3 separate regions of the Homo sapiens genome follow, and regions 1 and 3 are each linked to region 2. The links come from fine-mapping of genetic effects on gene expression. A gene starts in region 2. Each other region holds a variant in brackets. All regions are shown on one strand. Distances are from middle to middle.

Region 1 (7,699 bases), 75 kb after region 2:
TAACATCTGAATCAATATGAAACCTCTACCATCTCACTGAAAACTAAATACAAGTTCAGAATTCATCATGTTTCCTTTGCATTTTTTTTTTCTTTTTGAGATGGAGTCTCGCTCTGTCACCAGGCTGGAATACGGTGGCGCGACCTCAGCTCACTGCAACCTCCGCCTCCCTGGTTCAAGCAATTCTCCTGCCTCAACCTCCTGAGTAGTTGGGATTACAGGCGCCTGCAACCATGCCTGGCTAATTTTTGTATTTTTAGTAGAGACGGGGTTTCACCATGTTGGCCAGGATGGTCTCAAACTCCCGACCTCAAGTAATCCGTCCACCTTGGCCTCCCAAAGTGCTGGGATTACAGGCATGAGCCACCACACCTGGCCTTCCATGGCTTTTTTTTTTTTTTTGGTATCACAGTGGATTTGCTAAAAACTAGGCAAATTCTTTCCTATCTCTGGAATTCAGTTCTAACAAACGTAAAAATGAATGAGGTAGAAAGATTGTCTCTAAAACTCCTACAGCCCTTTCCACAATGAAAGAGGCTAAAAGATACTATAAAGCTATTTTATTGAAACGTGTGAGATAAGAATAAAAAATACAGAAAGTTAAGATAATTAAAATGAGAGAATAAGGGGGTGCTGAAAATTCCACTGAGAATAGCTGACTTGTCACAGAGTTGTAGAAAATTATCTCAGCCAGATTGCTTCCATCTGCAGTGTCTTCTCTTTGTTTTTGCTTTCACACATTACCTTATGCTGTTCCATCACTCTAGGCTGTCAGGCTCAATCCAATGGACCACCTTTCATGGCCCAGATCAAGTGGATCCATCAAAGTGACCTTATTAGGAAGTTAGCGCTACATCTTAGTTCTAGGCCCAGCAAGGCTACGGAGCACTCTGTGACTGAAAGACCTTCATTCTCCTCTCTGGGACTCAGTTTTCTCCTCCTTAATGTGAGAAGGTGGTTCGTGATAATGTCAAGGGGTACTTCCTGTTCTAAATTGGATGGAAGGCTGTGTAATCAGGGGACATGCTAAGAGCTGATAAACACTAGGTGCCTGTTTTTACCTCCTAGGGCTGACACCTGCTTACCCTTGAGATGGCTGACCCACATGACTGGTTGGAGGAGAGTCTCTCTGTCTCAGTTCTAGACAGGGCATGAGAAGTGGCTTGATTTTTCCTGAGGCTGACCAGTGGCTGCTCTATCGTTCCGTCTTGGGAATCACCATAAAGCCTCAGGGACAAGCAGAGGGCTGCTGGCCTCAGACAAGAAGCCAGAACCCTGCTGGGTTTTGGATTATTGGATCCAGATGGTGGAAACAAAGGGAGGAGAGCAGAGAATATATGTCTTCTCTTGTAATTGAAAACTTGATGTCTGCTAAGCTCATTAAGCCACTGTGACTCACTCAAATGGCATTTTAGAGGACTTAAATGTGCCAGGTGGACCCCAAATCCAGTCATTTTTCCCCTTCTTCTGACTTCCTCCCAAAAGTTGCCCACATAGTCAAATTTCTCCTTAGAAAGCTCTCAGTCAGGGGTGTCCAATCTTTTTTTTTTTTTTTTTCTTTGAGCTGGAGTCTTGCTCTGTCGCCCAGGCAGGAGTGCAGTGGTGCAATCTTGGCTCACTGCAAACTCCGCCTCCTGGGTTCACGCCATTCTCCTGCCTCAGCCTCCCAAGCAGCTGGGACTACAGGTGCCCGCCACCACGCCCGGCTAATTTTTTGTATTTTTAGTAGAGACGGGGTTTCACTGTGTTAGCCAGGATGGTCTCGATCTCCTGACCTCATGATCGGCCCGCCTCGGCCTCCCAAAGTGCTGGGATTACAGGCGTGAGCCACTGCGCCTGGCCTGGGGTGTCCAATCTTTTGGCCTCCCTGGCCCACATTGGAAGAATTATCTTTGGCCACACATAAAATACACTAACACTAACGATAGCTGATGAGCTAAAAAAAATCACAAAGAAACTCATTTATGAATTTGTGTTGGGCCATAATCAAAGCCATCCTGGGCCACATGCAGCCTGCAGGCCACAAGTTGGACAAGCTTGCTCTAGGTAGTTTGGAGGCTCTATTAGAGGGGCTCAAAAACTCCACGTGCTTAGGCCTTCTCTTTTCCAGATGGTGTTACTGAGGTTAGTGAGAACAGGGAACTTATCCAGGTCTGTTAGGAGTAAGACTTAGGTCTGGGAGGTGACATAGTACTACCTGTTCCTGAATTCCAGAAGGGAATCGGAGGACAGAGGGTACCTGGAAGGGACTTGAAGCTGGATAAGTTAACGTGGGTAGAAAGACTCCCTTCTCTGCACAGTTACACAGCCTCCTAGGTGGGCAGGACCAAGCTTAGATGTCGCAAAAAAAAAAAAAAAGATACTTGGTCCAAAGTCACATCTCCCAAATTGGGCCCTCATCATGCTGTGAATTCCTTATTTCTATTAATTAATAATTTCCTTTGAAATTCTAAACAATTGGAAAACAATGAAAGACTCCAAGTATTAGGAGACAAATACTGAGGCATCAATTGGAATTATAGAAATTACATTTGAAACAATTTGATCAAGTCAGCTATTTTCAGACAATTGTACAACGAACCCATGTCTGGGAATCAGAGAACCAGTTCTTTTCTGGGTTTGACTTACTGAGTGAAATTAGGAAATGCATTTCTCCCTTCAGGGGTCTGTGCAATCGTGATAAAGTAAGGAGGGAAATGACATCTCCCCACAGTCATTTTGTTGTCCTTTATGCCATTCAAGATTTGTTAATCAGGTGTCAATATCTCTAGGGAGGCCATGCAGGGACAGCAAAGTGAAACATGTTGGGGCCTTGTATCTCTCTTTGAGGCCTTGGGTCTCCAAGCCCTTGTCTGGTTCCAGCACTCCTTGGACAAGGCTGTCTTCCCTAGTAACAGCACCTCTCATTGCTTGGGAAGTTAGGAGAACTGGTACCCCATATCTGCTTTTGAAATCTGGTTTGAGTCTAGAGGACACATCCAATGCATGGATCACACCCGGAATTATTGCAGAGGGAAGCAATGAAATGGAAGCAAGAAAAATAGCTTCTTTCAAACTCACCCAAAACATTACTCACGCTTTCTTTTTTCTTGATCTTCTTCAAGTGCATTAATAATTTTTCTCCAACTTCTTTCAGAGAGTAGTTTCCAGGAGATTTTTTTGGGGTAGTTGAAGACAATAGAAGGCAGAAGAGGAAGAATAAGTAACTTCCACAATCTCCACCCCAAGAGGTATAAAATAACACCACCACCAAGAAATTTCTAAACAAAACCACATCCTCAACATAACTTGAAAACAAAGAATGCCAAAAATACAAAATACCTGTCAGTGAAAAGGGA[G/A]CAAACAACAAATCCCAGGGCTGGAACTCACACTCTCCTGCTATTTCCAGCCCCACTGTAAAACTTAAAGCTTTGCAAAATCGACCAAAAAAACTGCTGAGGAAGGAATGACATAACCAAGATGGTGAAATAGAAGGCACCTGCTCATGTCCCACCAGAATGACAAGAATTCTACACTCATCCACAGTCCAAAGTCTCTCTGTGGGAGCCTCTGGATCTGGATTCAGGGGGAAGTTTGTGAAACTCTGGTGGAGCCCAAGACCTTGGAGGGTCATATTGAGAGTGCAGACCAACACCCACGTGGCTGATCCACTGAGCTGGCTCCAGAGTTCAATCCCAGAAATGGCCCATTCAGGGGTTTGGTTACATTTGGCCTTGAGCCTGCAATCAAACCCATCTGCTGTGGGGTCCAGAATGAATCACATACACTAGGGCTTTGGCAGAAAGGCCCTTCTGCTCACTGACTGGGCAGTGAATCTGAAAGTTGCCTTGTGATTCAGCTCCAGCCCCCATCAGCTGAGGTCCCAGCTCAGAGCTGCTCACACAACAACCCAGAGGGAGACTCACACATATCTCATAGCCTAAGATCCTAAGCCTCCCTGACAGGCTTGCCAACCTCTGTTGCACAGCAGGTCGAGATGGGATCCAGTCTCAGCTCTGACACTTCCTGCTGTAATTGAACTATCCTTTCGGTGCTGAGACTTGCAGGGAGATATGTACTTGTCTTGGCCAACAAGATGGACTCTCCAGCCTCCATCCCACAGCAGATCCCAAGGTGGGGCCATTCCCAGCTTCAGCTCCTTCTGCTGGAATCAGGAAACTATTACGTCTCCGCAGGAACTTGCTGGAAGATGTGCACTCCTTCTAAGCCAATGAGATCGGGATCTCCAGCCACTGTGCCACAGCAGATCCTGAGGGGCCCAGTATCAGCTCCACCCTCTCCTACTGCAGTCAGAGGACTATTCCAAATGGCAGGGTCTTCTTGGGAGATGTGTCCCTGCCTGACTGAACATGAAAGGAATTACAGTCTCTGTTCCACAGCAAATCCTGGATGGAAGAAACCACTGGTCTCTGTGAGATCTTGAGTTGCTCAGCTACCTTGCTAGGCATGGACTGTCATCCTGGCCTGCTTCCTGAGCGAAAAGAAAGTGTCTTTTTGGAACCTTTCAATTTTTCTCTCTCAGTGGCTTAATCTTTGCCTGAATTCAGACCAGAGTTAGTTCTTTTGTTTTTGCAAATAGTGAACCTACCGTCTGAATCTTGTTTCTTAAAAAATTCAAGTTTTCTTCATTGTTTTGGAACTTGACATTGATCTTTACCTGAATTAGATATAATGAGGCCTGATTCTGGGTTTTCTTTTGTTTTCTATTGATTTCTCAACCTGACTATTCTTCTAATAAAAACAACATATTGATTATTGTTACTTTGCAAAACTTTTTTTTAAGTCTAGGAGGTTCCAGAGCCCTAGGGTTAATCTTCATTTGTAAACATCTACGCCTATTCACAAGAATTTATGCTTCCCCATAAACTTAAGTATGGTTTCAAGTTCCCTTAACCTCCATAACCACACCATATTAAAAATGGATTTTGGGTATAATACACCTTAGGGATAAATTAAATAAATATTAAATATTGAGTAAATAGTGACATCTTCACCACATAGTCTTCATGTATTGTGATATGTGCATATTCATGTATTGTGAGTATGTGTATATTCAAGCATTTTTATATGCCTCTGAAAAGTTACATAGATTTCTCTTCTAAAGCTCTGCCTCTCTCTTGTTTATTTATAGCAATGGTGTGATTTTGTTGATATTAATAATAGAAAATGCAGCATGTCTAACTGATTGTTGCTAGCATATAATAAAAATATCATTTACTATCACTTACTAACCTTGTGGCTTTTAATGGTTACTTAATCTCTCTTAGCTTCAATCTTTTTACAAAATTAGAAAATAAAATATGTATAATGGCCATCTGAAAGGGACTTATGAAAAATAAGTGACAATACATGTAATCTACTAGGTATAGGAAATAGAGTAAATATTAAAAAACAGAAACCATTATTTCCTCCAATGATGTATTTTGTATTTGTCAAGCCAGAAGTTTGGGTACTGCTGTCACCTGTACTCCAAGACACCCTAGTGTCAAAGCCCTACAGTTGTTCGGACTAGCCTCTGAACAATAGGGAAAAATCATGGCTCAGATGCTCGTGGATGGGGCAAAGTGGTGCAGGGATCCACATTGTCTCACCCCAAGCCTCTGCTCCCCATGTCATCTCAGAGCAAGAACCCAATACACAAAGAAGAGCTGTTTCATATCCCAGAGTGGCAGGATTAGACCTTCCTTTGCAGAATAATTATACCTTACCCCCTCAACTGAAATAGACCTCTGAGGCCTGGAAGGGGGACATACATTTGCCAGAGGTCACCCAATACGTGGGGAGGCAAAGCCAGTGCTGAGATCACCTGACTGTCAAGCCTGTGCTTATTCCCCTTCACCCAGGCTGCTCCCCTCCTGGGGGCTGTGGCCTTCTCTGAGAGTTTCCTTGTGCAATCGCAGTGGGACGAGTGGGTCAACAGGAGAGCCATGAGGTTGCTCATATTCCTGCCCCTTTCTCCACTACTCAAGTCTGCCCTGCCCCCAACATGTATGTCTCCAGAGAATGCTATTCACCCAAACCTCTGACACCATAGTATGAAGGACTTAGTGTATCTTGCCTCCTCATTCACATCTTAAAACAGAAATCTGGAAGAGAATATTGCTTAACCTAAAGGAATGCTACTTCATGGAGGAATCTCAGGCATAAACCAGTGAAATTCTAAAGAGCAGGAGTTTCGCAGCATCTGTAACATCATCCTTTCTATGTGGTGTTGAAAAGATATAGATTCCTGGGAAACATTAATGAGAAGGAAGTGGGGAGCTGTAGTTGCAGCCATAAGGGTTGGCTGGTCACACTGGTAAGGCCGACAGTAGCCAGGTCAGGACTGATGGTGGATTGGAAAAAAAAGACCTGCTTATGGTTTATGTAATGTTTATTTATTTTTTGTGTTTTGTGTTTTTCCTGGTCCTTGGCCAAAGGCAAGATTTCCATATTTCCATTTCCTGGTGAAAAGGAGCTGGCAGCACTGGGGCTGATTATTGGATTTGTAATATGAAGCCCTAGCAATGTGCCTCCTGTTTCCTCCCCCCGCCCTGCTCTCTTTCACCATGGGACCGTTTCCCCTCTTCACTGGAGAGAAGAAGTCCCAATTCTACATCCATTTCCCCAAAGCATCCAGGAGCCCAGAAGTCATAGGAACCAGAAACAAGTGGAGCAGAAGGAACTCTTTATTGGAAAGTGGATGAGAGAGGCAGCTCCAGCCGTGGGCATCCTGAATGGGAGGAAGAATGGACAGTGTGGGAAGGGGAAGGGCAGCAGGGACTTAGGACCAGATGGGGCCTGTAGCTCTGGGGACGGCACAGGTGCAGCAAGGACCGGCTCCCTCTGTGGAAGAGAAGAGTATCAGAGGTGAGAGTCAGCACATCAAAGCACTCAGAGGCAGTGAGGAAGACAGATCATCCTTCTAGGCACTCTGGTTATAGCCTCTCAGACCCCTCAGTCTCCCAGTCTTTCTGTCACCTCCCACAACCTCCCTCCCACCAACCTGGGATGCTTCCCCACCGCTCAGCCTTCTTTTGTGTCTTCAGGGGTCTCCTCGTTCTCCAGCTAGTGCTCACCTCACTGGGGAACGAAACAGGCCATCCCGCAAGAGCCTTCACAGCACTTCTTGATTCCTGGGCAGTCAGTATCTTTCAAGCAGCGGTTAGGGGGATTCAACATGGCGCACCGGATCAAGATAATGGGGCAGGAGCCAGGCTTAGTGGAGACTGGACCTTTGACTGGCTCTTGCGCTTTGACTTTATCTTGACCTTTAACTGAAACTTGTCCTTTAACGGGATCTTGTCCATTGAATGGAACACGGCCTTTGACAGTGTCTTGACCTTTAACAGGAACTGTTAAAAGAAGAAACGAGCCCACATTTATACCCAGTAAGCCTCTGCTTCAGCTGCCATGTCTTTCCTCTGGGTCTGGGTCCATCCACTGCTTACTGCAGCATCCTCAAACCATGGCCTGAGTAGGGAAGGTACACCTCTGGGAGCTACACTCTTGGAAGGCTCTTCCTTTTTTGGGGTGGTCTACTGGACCAGAGTTCCCTTGAGTATTTGTTTCTTCCCCCTTCCTCCACTCCAAGTCTCTCAGGAGCAGTGGTCAGACTGGGGTGACACCCAGCAGTGAAGAGGACACATTGTCATTTGTTAGGAAGTGCATTGGAGTAGGAAAGAACCCTGAGCCACATACTAGGAGACTTGAGCCCCAT
Region 2 (7,699 bases):
GAGGGGACCAGACAGTTTGCTGAGTGCTTTCCAAATACTCCTCACAACAACTGTACGACTCCAGAGGCAGCAACACTCTCATTTTTCAGTGGAGGTAGCTGAAGTTCAAAGAGGTTCAGTGATTTGCTTCCAACCTGTAAGTCTGACTTTGAAGTTCAGGTTCTTAACAACCATGTGGTGTCGACTCCGTGGGCGTGCTCTTTTCTGTAGCCCTAGGCCTAGTGCAATACCTGACATGTGGTAAGAAATGTTAAACAACTTTTGTGTGAATGGTTTGTATAAATGAATGAAGGAATCTATAGGATTTAGGTAGAAGGCAATAAAGGGTGTGTGAAATAGATTTTTTTTTTTGAGACAGAGTGTCACTCTTGTAGCCCAGTGGCATGACCTCAGCTAACTGCAACTCTGCCTCCCAGGTTGAAGTGATTCTCCTGCTTCAGCCTCCTGAGTATTACAGGCACACACCACCATGCCCGGCTGATTTTTGTATTTTTAGTAGAGATGGGATTTCACCATGTTGGCCAGGCTGGTCTCAAACTCCTGACCTCAAGTGATCCACCCACCTCAGTCTCCCAAAGTTCTGGGATCACAGGAGTGAGCCACCACTCCCAGCCTTGAGATAGATTGAATGAGTCAGTCTCAGGTTAAGATTTGGTTAGGAGTGGAAGTGTCCTCCACCAGACAGGTTCTGGGGATCAGCATGTGAGTAACCTGTTTTAGAAAAGCTCAATCTTGTGTGTGTCGTTAATCCGCTATGCAGCTTTGGGCCTGGATCTTCTTCTAAGGGATTCAGTCTCTTTTATGCAAGCTGTGGGTTTGGTCTAGGGGTTAGCATTTTCTGTAAAGGACCAGACGATAAGTATTTTAGGCTGTGCAGTAAATATTTTAGGTCCCTGTTGCCATTGTAGTGGAAAGATAGCCTTAGACAATACATAAATTAATGGATGTGTGGCTATGTGCCAATAAAACTTTATGAAAACAGGTAACTAGGTGGATTTGGTCCAAGGACTGTAGTTTGCTGATCTAGAAAACCCTTGAAGTCCTCTTTTTAGTCTTAACATTCTATGATGTAAACATTTAGAACCAATTATGTCAAAGATAATAATGATTATATACTATTATCTTCTTATGACACCCATGGAAGACATTGCTAATTGGGCACAGGGCTCTTTTCTGATGAGAAAGGAGCTGGCTCTAATCAGTCAATCACAGATTGAGCAATCAGTCAATCACAGATTTAAAAAAAACTTAAGCTGTAGCATTTTCCTTTTAATTTTTTTTTTTTTTGAGACGGAGTCTCAGTTTGTTGCCTAGGCTAGAATGCAATGGTACAATCTCAGCTCACTGCAACCTCTACCTCCAGGGTTCAAGTGATTCTCCTGCCTCAGCCTCCTGAGTAGCTGGGATTACAGGTGTGTGCCACACTGCCTGGCTAATTTTTGTATTTTTAGTGGAGATAGGGTTTCACCATGTTGGCCAGGCTGCTCTTGAACTCCTGACCTCAAGTGATCCGCCCACCTTGGTTTCCCAAAGTGCTAGGATTACAGGCATAAGCCACCGTGCCCAGCCCCTTTTCATTCTTTAAGAAATAAATATTTAGAAAACTCCAGATAATTTCTTGAGTGTGGCACTGAGGAAAATAGGAACAAACAGAGAGAGAGAGAGAGAGAGAGAACAGGAACTCTGTGAGAGAAATCAAATTATCCCCTGGGTGGTGGAAGTGAGAACAAAAATCTTGACCTGAGAGTGTCATTACCCATTGGTGGAAATCATAGCCTCCATTTCTCTCTTACCTACCCTACTAAGTACTCCAACTAAGAGTGAATGCACCTGGCTCATAGTAGTTACCTTGTGCATATTAATTTTCTTCCTTTTCTTTTTCCACCAAAATTTGACTGATGATTGATTATGTCCAAGTCTTCTGATCCACCAAAATTCAAACCATGGAGTGACTTTTGTATAAAGGGATCTGCTGCCAGTTGCCTGTTTGGTTGTGGAATACTTAAATACTTCATGTGGGGCCATCGCTACTTGATAATGAGTGGGTCTTTCATGTCTGTGGAAAGTTCCACAAACCTTCACCTTAGGAATGAATGGGAGAATTCCAAGCATGAAGATAATGAGTCAAGAGCTTGGAGTTTGTAGCTAGATGAGCTTTGGTTGAATTTTATTTTATTTTATTTTTTTAAGACAGGGTATCGCTCTGTCCCCCAAGCTGGAATGCAGTGGCACAATCATGGCTCACTGCAGCCTCAAACTCCTGGGCTAAAGCGATCCTCCTGGCTCAGCCTCCCAAGTAGCTGGGACTACAGGCATACGTACGTCATCATGCCTGGCTAATTTTTTACATTTTTTTGTAGAGATGGGGTCTCAATATGTGGCCAGGGCTGGTCTCAAACTCCTACTCTCAAGGAATCCATACACCTCAGCCTCCTGGGCAGCTGAGACAGCAAGTGTGCGACCCTACACTCAGCTATGGGCTGAATTTTAGAGATAATGGTCGCTCTCTTTATAATTAGAAGCAACCTATGCAGACTGGGTAGCAAATAGAATGGGTTTAATTTTTTGCTGTCATGTGAGATCTGTAAGGGATTTTGGGGAATTTTAGGAAGCAATCCTCTAAGATCTCAAATTATCTCACAGCTAAATGTAGATTACAGTGACTGATGAGCTGCTTTCCCCCTTTATCTCAGATTCATTTCAATTCTCTTTAGTGGGAAGGGATACTATTCATTTGTTCTTTTCATTCAGAGTCCCTTCATGCCCTTAATTTCATAACCCTCTGAGAAGGGCTGACTTGTTAGTATCATTTCATTTCACAGCTGAGACAACTGAGCTCCAGAGAGATTTGTGGAGAGCGGAGCTCTTCTTCAGCTTTCATTTGTGAGTGCTTTTCCTGTGTCAGGCACAGAACAGGCACTGGGGATATAACGGTGTAAATATTTCAGGGAACTAAGTATCAGTTGGTTGAACGAGCTGAACTTTTGAGAAAGAAACTGCATTGAGTAATCAGCAGAGTTTCACAATGCCTGAGAGTCCAGTAATGTGAGAATCAGAATTAGCAATGTGAGAATAGAATGTATTGCACAAAGTCTCAGCAGGGAGTCTGTGTCTGGTTTTAGTTCCAGGTCCGGGTAGCACCTTTGCAATTGACCACTTCTTCCCTCTCTCCACCTATAAGGCTAATGGCCTGGGATCTTGTGATGTTTAGGGCTCAGATGGACACTGAGATGGCCTCTTTAATCAACCAACTTCCCAGGCCAATCTCTTCCCTTTCTTTTCTGATAGTTGCTGTGTTGGCCTCATAGCCTTACCTGGCATAGGAAAGATAAACAATCTCCTTGGTGTCAGGATTTCTGGTCTCTGGCTACGTTTCCTGCTTATGCAATAGTAGCTGGGAGAGGCCGAAAGAATTCTGGTGGGGCCACACCCACTGGTGAAAGAATAAATAGTGAGGTTTGGCATTGGCCATCAGAGTCACTCCTGCCTTCACCATGAAGTCCAGCGGCCTCTTCCCCTTCCTGGTGCTGCTTGCCCTGGGAACTCTGGCACCTTGGGCTGTGGAAGGCTCTGGAAAGTGTAAGTTGGAGTCACTCTGGTCTAATCTGGGCTGCAGGGTCAGAGGTGGGGTCTCCTTGTGGTGTGGGTGTGTCCCCTTCTGTAGGCTCTGATCCCTCAGCTTAGTTTCGGGAGACCTCCCTGAGGGTGGAATACATGTCTGGCTGAGCTCCAAGGTTTGTGTGACAGTTTGAGCTTCTGGAAATGCTTCCTCTATGCAGCCATGCTGTCAGCCCAGGTCCCACTCTCTCTCTCTCTCTCTCTCTCTCTCTCTCTCTCTCATACTCCGCCTTCTTCTTCACCTGTCTGCGACTCTCAAATCATTAGTTTCTGACTCTGCTTCCTTGTGTCTTTGCTTCTGCTATTTTGTCTCTGTGCTTCTGCCTTGGGCTTTAGCTCTCAACTTCTCTCACACTGGTTCTATTTATCTTTGTTTACCTCTCTCCATCTCCATCACTCCCAGCCTTCCTCTCTGCCTTTGTGTAGCCTTGTTTTGCTCTTGGGTGGGAGGTCTTGACTAGAAGCCTGCTGCCCTTTTCTTGGGTGTGAAACGTCCCCTGTCCATTTGTCTAATTTAATCAAGCCCATCAATACACCTGGAGATCAGGCAGGCATGACCCTTTGGGCTTTGTGGACAGCTACTGAGGTAAGGGTCTCTCCCCCTCAAAAGTGGTGCTTTGTTCAGGAGGCATGATGGGTCCTCAGTACCCAGCCTCCTCCTGACCTCTTGACTTTCTCTTCAAAAGCCTTCAAAGCTGGAGTCTGTCCTCCTAAGAAATCTGCCCAGTGCCTTAGATACAAGAAACCTGAGTGCCAGAGTGACTGGCAGTGTCCAGGGAAGAAGAGATGTTGTCCTGACACTTGTGGCATCAAATGCCTGGATCCTGTTGACACCCCAAACCCAAGTAAGCAGGTCGGGGAACTGGGTAGAGAGGAGTGAGCCTGGGGACACAGCATTAGAGGGATGGAACTGGGTGATGGGTCCTGCCAGGCCTCCTTGTCAATCCGTCAGTGAGTCACACTGCCCTAAGCAGGAAGGTAGCCAGCAGCTGGTGAAGCAGCGGGCATTTAGATAGCCAGGTAGTTGGAAGCCTCCCACCTAGTCAGCACTGGGTGGCTGGCCACCTGCATCAATGGGGGGCCTGAAGTTCTAGGAGAGCCAGGTGCTATGTTTGGGGGCCGCCTTAGGGAGAAGGTGGTGGTGATAGAGGTGGGGAGGGGATGATCCCCCCTGCTGAAGCTGGAGCAGGGGCTCACTCTAAAAAGTGGGGATGGGAGGGGTTGTATAAAGTACAAGGCCTCTGACCGGTAGCCTCACTCTCACCCAGCAAGGAGGAAGCCTGGGAAGTGCCCAGTGACTTATGGCCAATGTTTGATGCTTAACCCCCCCAATTTCTGTGAGATGGATGGCCAGTGCAAGCGTGACTTGAAGTGTTGCATGGGCATGTGTGGGAAATCCTGCGTTTCCCCTGTGAAAGGTAAGCAGGGGATGAGGGCACACTGAGCTCCCTCCAGCCCTCTCAGCCTCAACCCTCTGGAGGCCCAGGCATATGGGCAGGGGGACTCCTGAACCCTACTCCAAGCACAGCCTCTGTCTGACTCCCTTGTCCTTCAAGAGAACTGTTCTCCAGGTCTCAGGGCCAGGATTTCCATAGGATCGCCTGTGGCTTTGATTCTATTCTAGTGTCTCTGGGTGGGGGTCCTGGGCAAGTGTCTTTCTGAGTCTCAGTTTCTTTATCGGTAAAATGTACATAATGAGATTGAAAGTGCTCTGCAAAGCACTATGTGCACTAAGAATTTATTATTCAGGTTGTTTCCATCATGTTTTCTGAGGTGAAATCACAAAGGATCAGTGGAGTTTGAGGATTATCTAGTTCAATGCTTTGAGTTTAGAGTTTTACGGTGAAAATGAGACTTGTCTCCTGACACTAAGTCTCTCTCAACTATAGCGCTATCTTGCTATTTTCTCTATCTCAGAAGGATCCTTGGGCAGGAGGAAGGATGTGGATATGATTTGGCTGGTTTCTATGCTGAAGCTCTTATCTGATTTTCTCTCACAGCTTGATTCCTGCCATATGGAGGAGGCTCTGGAGTCCTGCTCTGTGTGGTCCAGGTCCTTTCCACCCTGAGACTTGGCTCCACCACTGATATCCTCCTTTGGGGAAAGGCTTGGCACACAGCAGGCTTTCAAGAAGTGCCAGTTGATCAATGAATAAATAAACGAGCCTATTTCTCTTTGCACATCCTGCTTCTGTGATTCGTTGGGGGTATGAGTGGGGTGGGAAGCTGTGAGGGAAGATCTAGATATGAGGCCTCCTTCCTATGAATACGTAGTGGGAGGAAGAGGCTTAGGGACTGGGGGAACTTGAATTTATATCATGAGTGTGAAAGTGCTGACTCTGTGATTTGGGACAAGTGATTTTATCTCCTAAATTTCAATGGGATTAGGGATGTACAATAACATGAAGAATCAGAAACCTCAATTTTACTGCCTCTGGCAGGATTGTCAACTGCAGGTGAAAAACTTTCCTGAGACGAGTTTATGCATAAGAGATCCTGCCAACAGTTAAGCTATTTTAATCCAGGGGGTTTTCATCTAAAGCCATACAGAACTGTTGGGGCAGATTCCTGTGTTCACCTCTGTATGTGTTACGATATATATATTGGTTTTCACACTTGATATGTTGTAGGTCTGTCTGTTGTCTAATCCAACCAACACTCTCTGGACACTCAGAAAAATTAAGATTATCTGCAACTCACAGCAAATGGAGTCCTCAAAAAGACTAACCATGTTACGTCAGTGCCCACTCTCGATTATTTTGAAAGACTTGGAATGCCCCAAACCTCACTGGACCATTCTGCTACATACTTTTCTCACCTCCAGCAAGGGTTATTCCAGACTGAGGAACCTAGGCTCGGGCAAATACGCTACTAGGAGTGTGCCCCAAGTAGCACCTTGCAGGGGGAGGAGACCTAGCGTTGAAATGAGATAAACTCCTGGGTTACATACAGAACACATGCTGAAAAAGTGACAGTACTATTTTTTTTCTACTCTTCTTCTCCAATTTTTGGATAATGATAAACTTTTATAATCTTCCTTAGGTCAGGTTTTCTGGAAAACAGTCCCAGAGGCAAATGTTTGTGAACAGGGGGTTTGCTGGGGAGTGTCCTGGGGAGTGACACCTGTGACAGGGAAAAGAAAGCAGGGCTGACAGGCAAAAAAAGCAAAAATAGACAAGTGGGACTACCTCAAACTAAAAAGCTTGCAAAGCTAAAGACACAGCCACCACTACCAGTCTCTGCATCTTGATGGTAGTGGTCCCCTGGGCCCAGCTGCTTTCTCTTTATCTCTTGGTCTTGTGTCTTTTACAATCTCTTGTCTCTGCACACAGGGAGAACACCCACTAAGCCCTGTAGGGCTGTATAGAAATGCTACTGATTTTTGTATGTTGATGCTGTATCCTGCATATTTACTGAATTCATTGATTGGTTCTAAGAGTTTATTTGCAGAGTCTAAAGGTTCTTCTGTAGATATAATTATGTTATCTGCAAAGAGGGATAATTAGACTTCTTTTCCAATTTGAAAGGCTTTTATTTCTTTCTCTTTCCTAATTGCTCTATGACTTCTAATATTAAGTTGAATAAGAGCAGTGAGAGTTGGCATGCTTTTCTTGTTCCAGTTCAGTATGATGTTAGCTGTGGGTTTGTCTATATGGCCTTTATTGGGTTGAGATACTTTTCTTCTATACCTACTTTATTGAGAGTCCTTATCATGAAGGGATATTGAATTTTACCAAATGATTTTTCTGCATCTATTGAGATAATCATATGGACTTTTTGTCCTTCATTCTGTTGATGTGATGTATCACATTTATTTAAAACATTCATAAATGATTTATATATGTTGAAACACATTCTTCATCCCTGGAATAAATCCTACTTGATTATAGTGTATTATCTTTTTAATGTCTTGTTGGGTTCAGTTTGCTAGTATTTTATTGAGGATTTTTGTATCTATGTTCATAAGGAATATTGGCCTGTAGTTTTTTGGTGTGTGTGTGCATGTGTGTGTCCACGTGCCCTTATTTAGTTTTGGTATCAGGGTAATGTTGGACTCATAGAATGAGTTTGGGAGAATTTT
Region 3 (7,699 bases), 50 kb after region 2:
TATTCCCCTGATCTTGAGAAGGATTTTGTGTCCCACGATGAGCTTTGCCTCCTTTATGGTGTATAACTACCCTGTGAAAATGACCTTTTGATTTATCATGGTCTCTGCCTTCTTGTTTATTATGGAGCAGTTGTTGACTTCCACCTAGATGTCGTTGTGATTTTGTCGTCTTATGTAGGGCATTCAAATCATATTGCTGACTTTTTCGGGACTGGTCATGATCATTGGCATCTACATGATATGTGTATTGAATAGAAAAACTGCCTTTGGATTCAGTTTGTTGCTTGCCTTTTTGTCCAGAATAGTGCTGGCCCTTTTGTCCGTGTGGAAATTGGGAAAATTCACTTGGTAATCGGCCTTTTGATCCACCTGGTAATTGATAATAAGAAGGTATGCATTCATTATCTCCAAAGCTCCCTTACAACTCTTACCCCCCACTTTTCCCCCAACAAATTATTGATATTTCTAGAAAAGCTGAAGCTTTGGGTGGAGAAAATCAATTCTCTTCAAAGAGAAGAATCTGTGCCTAAACAGGTTACTGTTTGCACCCCAAATAATCTTAGATTATTAGCTGTCTGAGCAGCTTTCCCCAAGGCTTACCCTCTCCACTCACCTTTTTGTCCCATCACAGCTGCTTGCTTCTCCAAGATGAGGAGCAGGGAAAGTACAAAGATGATGTTGGGCTTCATCTTGCTTGGAAAACCTTGTCTGAGAGCTGAGCCGACCTTGTCATTTATATCTTCCTTGAGTGAGTGTGCCATGGGTGGAGCTTAAATTACAAAAGGCACTGACTTTTCTTAGCTTATCAGTAAATGCCAACTTCCTCACCCCTGCTGAGTGTGGGACAAAGTCAATGTCCCCAGCAACATAATGTCAAAGGCATTTTCTTTCTTCTGGCAGCCCCAGCAAATTTTTATCAGTCCTTTTAGATCATCATGCCAGATCACTTTAATTTTACAGAATTATAGACAAAAGTAGGAAAGAGACTGGCTTCAGGCTACAAAAGCAATTGGTTTCTGAGAATGCCTTTATATTCTAAATGTGAGTTTCCCTTCATGATGCAATAATTTAAATACTCTATTTTAGATAGAACTCCATACTTCCTTTTGTTTTAAAAATGATCTTGAGACACGTTCTATTTTACCTAAGAATGAGCAATCATAGAAGTCCAATGATATAGAAGATAATGAAACGTTATGGAATCCAAAGAAAGAAATTTTAAACAAGTAAATGGGGCACTCCAATGTCAAATATGTCTGTCAAGTTCAACACAATAAAGACTGACATGTATCCAAAGTTTTTCTTAGTTGTTGCTAGTAACTTTAATGAGAGATGAATACAATTGCATTGGGTTGTCAGTTGAAGGATGGAGACCAGCTGCAACCTTCTCAGGAAGTCTGAATTCATGGTGGAGTGAGAGCTGAGGCTGTATCTGGAGGGTGAGGTAAGTTCCAGATGTGTTTTCAAAGGATGAAAGAATTTTAATATGCTTTCATGGTGATAGGAACAACTGTTGGAAAAAAAGTAAAAATGCTGGTTTCTAGATTGGGTTCTTTTCATGAAATCTACCTAAACAGCAGAATTTTCTTTTTAATTAAGAGAAGTTTCTACTTCAGTAGTAAACAGCTGAATCCCCAAACAGGCTGTGAGAAATATTTGCCACCATCAATGAATTGAATAATGTATTGTGAGTGGACATGAAGCTAAAATTCCCACCTTTGGTAGAAGCATAGATTTTTCCAATTGTGATGACATCCTGAAAAGTCTGAAGAAACTTTCTTTACTTTGAGTCATAAAGACTTCGTTATGAGCAGACCACAGGAGAAGAAGAAAGCATCCCAACAGTGTCCCTGTGTACATTCAGAACACCTTGGAGGGTAGTGCTGGGGAAAGGATAGCTTGAAAACTTATTTTCAATTATTCTGTCTTAGAATCTTAACCTTCCTGTAGGCAATGCTCTATGGAAGGGGAAAAGAGAAAGGCCAACCACAGAAAAAAAGTGCTATGCTATCAAACATAAATCATGTGAGCTGCATGGTTTCTCTATGAGCCACTCTGAGATCTTACCAAATTTATCTGTTTGCCTCAAAGGCAGTAAGTAGTTCCTTATTGCAGAAACCCCAACAGAGTAAGGTGATATTGTTCTGAACTAAAATTGATTACTGTGTCTGCTAACCACTGTAATCTTCCTCACACTTCCCTTAAGAAAATACCAGAAACTGTTCTGTTCCAAACTTACTGATACAAAATAGAGTCTGAAATATTAATCTTACTTATGGATCAAGAACAAAACTTTCATCTCATCTAGTGTCCAAAAGATGCAGATAAAACAAAAGGGCACAATATTTGCAAAAACAAACCAGGAAAATGCAATCCAAGCAAAACATGTGATTACTATATTCATATTAGAATTGAATTCAATGAAATGTGGAAAAAAACATTTCCAAATGATAAAGGAATGTATTGATAAAGTTGAAATCAGAAATCAGTGATTTGGAAAGCATAAAAATGGTATGGTGATGCATACATCTTAGATATGGAATTATGATGGGGGAAAAGATTAAGTGATCAAATGATTTGTCCTGTTGGACAAATAAAAAATGCAAAAATATTAAAGTGCACTAAATTGGCACAAAAATCTGAAAGTTTTATACTCATAGGAAAAGAAGAAAACAGGAGGACTTAAATGTATTTTGCTCAATTCTATGGGAAATCACTTTACAACTTAGAAAAGATTCAAATATAGTTATTTTTGGGGAATGGGCAGAAAAACCTGGTAGAGTAGGACTCCCCAGAGATTATACCCTCCAAAACGTCGAATTTAATAATTATCCACATATGATAATAGTTTCTCAAAAGCTAAACAGGCCAGATGAGATATTACAGAACCTGATTATAGTATAATAATTAAAAATACACATTGAAGAGGGCACGAAAGACAATTTTGTTTCCTGTATCACCCCTAACCCAATCACAGGCAGCACAGTGCAGAGAGAGCTACTTTCTTTTGGGGGGAAGGGAATGAAGTAAGGCTTGGACTTTTTCACGGAACAAAATACTAGTCTATAATAGTAAAATTCAGCACTGGGAGGACACCCATAGTGACCCTGCTTGAATACCTGTGGCCTAAGCAGCAAGACCTGCCCCAGCAGCAGAGAGGAACACATAGTTCCTGTGAGATAGACTTGCGTTCTTACCTGTACCACTGGCAGCCAACTACAGCAGCCTTGGATTATGAATAACCAACATACGTAGGCAGGTATCAGTGAGGAGGAGTTGGGAATGCATTCCATCATTGTGCCAGCCTCTGCAGCCATGGGTTACAGCCTGGTGCAGAACTGGCCATGGTGGTCCTGGGTTTATGACATCTCCTTGTGCTGCAATGACTGAAACAGTCACAGGCTTACAAACCTAGAACAGATGATCTGCCTAGAATTTCCGGACAGAGTTGAGGGACATTCTCAGACAAAGCCAAACTGGAGTAAGTACCTACCTTAAATTCAATATCTGCATTCAAGTACCTACCTGCAATTCAATAAGTACCTACTTCTTCAATGTGCAGACATCAATGCACAATCACAAGGATCAAGAACAATCGGGGAAAACTGATGACACCAAATTAACAAAATAAGGTACCAAATGAACAAAATAAGATACCATTGATTGGCCCCAAAGACATGGAGATGTATGACCTGCCTGAAAGAGAATTTAAAATGGCTGTTCTAAGGAAGCTCAAAGAACTTTAATAAAATACAGATAAATAATTAAATGAAATGATGAAAACAATAAGTGACCAGAAAGAGAGATGTAACAAAGGGTAAAAATGATAACATTTAATATCTAATGTTAATATAGGAGCTGAAGAATGCAATGAATAAAATGAAAAGTGTGAAAAGTGCAATAGAGTGCATTAACACCAGAAATGATCAAGCAGAAGGAATAATCTGTGAGCTTGAATACAGGTTATTTGACAATATATACTCAGAAAAGGAAAAAAGAAAAAAGAATAGAATGAAGGAAACTTATGAGATGTATGGAATAGCATTAAGTGAGCAAAGGGACAATTTACTGGCATTCAAGAGAAGTTAGAGAAAGATAAATGGAAAAGTAAAGAAAGCTTATTAAATAAGTAATAACAGAAAACTTTCCAAATCTGAGGAGTTCATATATATATATATATATATATATATATATATATATATACACACACACACACACACACATATATACACCCATATATATACATATACATATATACATATATATTATATATATATGTATGTGTCTATTATATATATATATATGTAGTCAAAGTGCAGGATGGTCAACAGTCACCAATCACATTCAATTCAAAAAAGACTAGACATATAATAATTAAACTGTGAAAGATCAAAGACAAATAAATGATACTGAAGCAGCAAAAGAAAAGAAGCAAATAAAATGCAAAACAGTTCCAATACACTTCACATCAGACCTTTTTTTTCTTTTTCAACTGTTATTTTACATTCAGGGGCCAAGTGTGCAAATTTGTTACCTGGGTATATTGCATGATGCTGAAGCTC[G/T]GGGTATGAATTTTCCTGTCATTCTGATACTGACTATAATACCCAACATTTAGTTTTTCAACCCTTGTCCCCTTCCCTCCCTCCTTCTCTCCTCTAGTAGTCTTCAGTGTGTATTATTTCCATCTTTATGTTCATGAGTATCTGACATTTAGCTCCCCTCTATAACTGAGAACATGTGGTATATAGTTTTCTCTTCCTGCATTAATCTACTTAGGATAATGGCCTCCCACTGCATCCATGTTGCTGCAAATGCATGATTTTATTTATTTTTTATGACTGTGTAGTATTCCATGGTGTATATACACCATATTTTCTTTATCCAATCCACCATTGATGGGCACCTAAGTCGATTCCATGTTTTTGCTAGTATGAATAGTGCTGCAATCAAATCATATTTCTCAAAGGGAACATTAAAGATCAGAGGAGAGTGGAATAATATTATCAAAGTAATGAAAAAAAAGAAAACCATCCAAGCATACTATACTCAGCAAAGCTGTTCTTCAGAAATGACAGAGAAATGAAAACTTTCCTAGACATACAAAGGTGAGGAAGTATGTCACCATCAGACCTATTTTACAAGAAATGCTAAAGGAGTTCTTCAAGGTGAAAGAAAAGGATGCTAATGAGTAATACAAAATAATCTAAAAGTGTAGAACTCACTAATAAAATTAATTACACAGTCAAAATTCAGAATACTGTGATACTATAATGGTGATGTATAAATCACTTCTATCTTTAGTATGAAGGCTAAAAGATAAAACTTGAAATTAATAATAACTACAATAAATTGTTAATGTATATGGCACATAAAAGCTGTTAATTGTGACATGAAAATATCAAAATGCGGGGAGGGAAGTGGTGGTAAGGTGTAGTTTTATGTTTTGTAATCAAACAAATTATTATCAGGTTAAAATCACTTGTGATAGCTACAGGATTTTTTTTAAAGGCCTCATGTTAGCCACAAAGACAACATTTTTAATAGACGCCCTAAAAATAAAAAATAAGTATCAAAATATACTACTAGAGAAACTAACTTAATCATAGTGGAAGGCAATAAGAGAGAAAGAAAGAAAGAAAGAAAGAATCACCAAAGCAACTAGAAAACAATGAAAAAGTGGCAGTAGTAAGTCCTTACCTATGAATAATTATCTTGAAGGTAAATAAATTCACTAATTAAATGCCTAGAGTGGATGAATGGGAAAAAAATAAGATACATCAATAGGCTTCCTAAAAGAGGCAACCATACTGGTAATTACACACATAGACTGAACGATAATGGATGGAAAAAACATTCCACACAAGTGGAAACCAAAAGAGAGCAGGAGTAGCAACACTTATATCAGATCAAATAGACTTTAAGTCAAAAATGTAAAAAGACATAAAGAAGATCATTATATAATGCTAAAGAGGTCAATTCAGCAAGATAATACAGAAATCGTAAGTACGTATGCACCCCAAATCCAAGCACCTAAAGATATAAAGCAAATATTCTGAAGAGAGATCTCTGCATACAATAATAGTAGGTGTTTTAGGGCATTTAGCATTACTATAAAACAATACCTGAGACTAGAGAATGTATACAGAAAAGAGGTTTGTTTGGCTCAAAGTTCTGCAGGCTAAGATGCCTGGTGCCAGCATCTGCTCAGTTTCTGGTGATGCCACATAAAGTATTTAATCGTGATGGAAGGGATTGGGAGCCAGTGTATCACATGGTGAGAGAGGGAGAAAGAAAGATGCCAGGGTCTTTTAAACAAGCAGTCTTCATGTGAACTAAGAGAGTGAGAACTCACTCATTACTGCGGGGATAGCACCAGGCCATTCATGAGGGATCTAGCCCTATAACCCAAACACCTCACACTAGGCTGCACTTCCAACACTGATGGTCACATTTTAACATGAGATTTGGAGGGGACGGATATCCAAACTATATCATTAGAGGATTTCAAAACCCTGTAATAGCAATGGACAGATCACCCAGACAGAAAATCTGCAAAGACCTGTGAGATATAAGCTGCACTCTAGACTAAATAGACTTTAAGGGCGTATACAGAAAAGTTTATTAAACAACTCCAGAACACATGTTCTTCTCAACTGCACAAGAAATATTCTCCAAAATAGATTATTATATGTTAGGCCACAAAACAAGTCTTAACATTTTTATGAAGATTGAAACCATATCAAGTATCTTTTCTGACCACATTACTATCAAACTAGAAATTAATAAAAGAAGGAACTTCAGAAAATACACAAATACATGGAAATTAAACTACATGCTCCTGAACAACCAACTGGTCAAAGAAGAAATTAAAAAGGAAATAAAAATTTCTTCGAGACAAGCTAAAGTAGAAACACAATGTATCAAAGGCTATGAGATACAGTAAAAATAGTTCTAAGACAGAAAGTTACAGCAATAAATGCCTACACAAAAAAGAAAAAAAATCTCAAATAAACAACCTAATGTGGCACCACAAGTAATAAGAAAAAGAAAAGAGAAAACTAATTGTAATAATACTAGAAGGAAAGAAATCATACGGATATAGTAGAAATAATAAAAATGGAGACTACAAACACAATACAAAAGATCAATAAAACAAAGAGTTGGTTTTTGGAAATGACAAACAAAATCACCAAACTTTTAGCTAGACTAAGTAAAACAAAAAAAAGAAGACTCAATTAAATAAAATCAGAGATGAAAAAGGAGACATTACAACTGATACCACAGAAATGCAAAGATCATTAGAGACTCATGAACAACTATATACTAACAATTAGATAACCTAGAAGAAACTGATAAATTCCTAGACCCCTGTAAGCTATCAAGATTTAACTATGAAGAAATAGAAAATTTGGCAGTCAGCAAGATGGATAACTAGAGACCCATGGTGCTCATCCCCACCAGAATAAAGGGTCAAGGTAACAAACAGCTAAGATTTGGTTGGAGTGTCAAAGGGAGAGTGCTGGAGTGCATGGGGGAGTGGAGATGAACCGTGGTGATTAGAAGTTCAGGAGGGCAGTGCAGAGGCATCTGGTTTTTGCAGTCCTGTCTCCCTCCACTCGGATCAGATCTGTCTGGAGCCAAGAGGGTCTTCCTGTTGCAGGGAAAATGTAAGGAGAAGGTCCCCACCAGTCACCTTGTG

What was found. PIP is the estimated chance that this variant, and not a neighbour inherited with it, causes the effect. A credible set is the group of variants that fine-mapping cannot tell apart.
Region 1: its variant is the best candidate, but not a certain one, in a credible set for the expression of SLPI in whole blood (TOPMed, PIP 0.50).
Region 3: its variant is the best candidate, but not a certain one, in a credible set for the expression of SLPI in whole blood (INTERVAL, PIP 0.70).

Annotation. Positions count from the first base shown.
Region 1 is chr20:45,175,496-45,183,194 of GRCh38, reverse strand. LINC02597 (long intergenic non-protein coding RNA 2597) reads right to left here and starts at 3,208. Exons shown (of 4, transcript NR_187568.1): 1 at 3,061-3,208. It overlaps PI3 (peptidase inhibitor 3), which reads right to left. Exons shown (of 3, transcript NM_002638.4): 2 at 7,059-7,334; 3 at 6,651-6,825. The coding sequence ends at 7,060. RefSeq lists an enhancer at 7,504-7,699. The variant G/A (reference allele first, on the strand shown) is at 3,339.
Region 2 is chr20:45,250,339-45,258,037 of GRCh38, reverse strand. SLPI (secretory leukocyte peptidase inhibitor) reads left to right here and starts at 3,474. Exons shown (of 4, transcript NM_003064.4): 1 at 3,474-3,579; 2 at 4,305-4,463; 3 at 4,887-5,036; 4 at 5,619-5,799. The coding sequence starts at 3,495. The coding sequence ends at 5,623. The region is part of intron 2 of LOC105372630 (a long non-coding RNA gene); the gene reads right to left.
Region 3 is chr20:45,200,044-45,207,742 of GRCh38, reverse strand. SEMG1 (semenogelin 1) reads right to left here and starts at 710. Exons shown (of 3, transcript NM_003007.5): 1 at 614-710; 2 at 1-369. The coding sequence starts at 689. The variant G/T (reference allele first, on the strand shown) is at 4,563.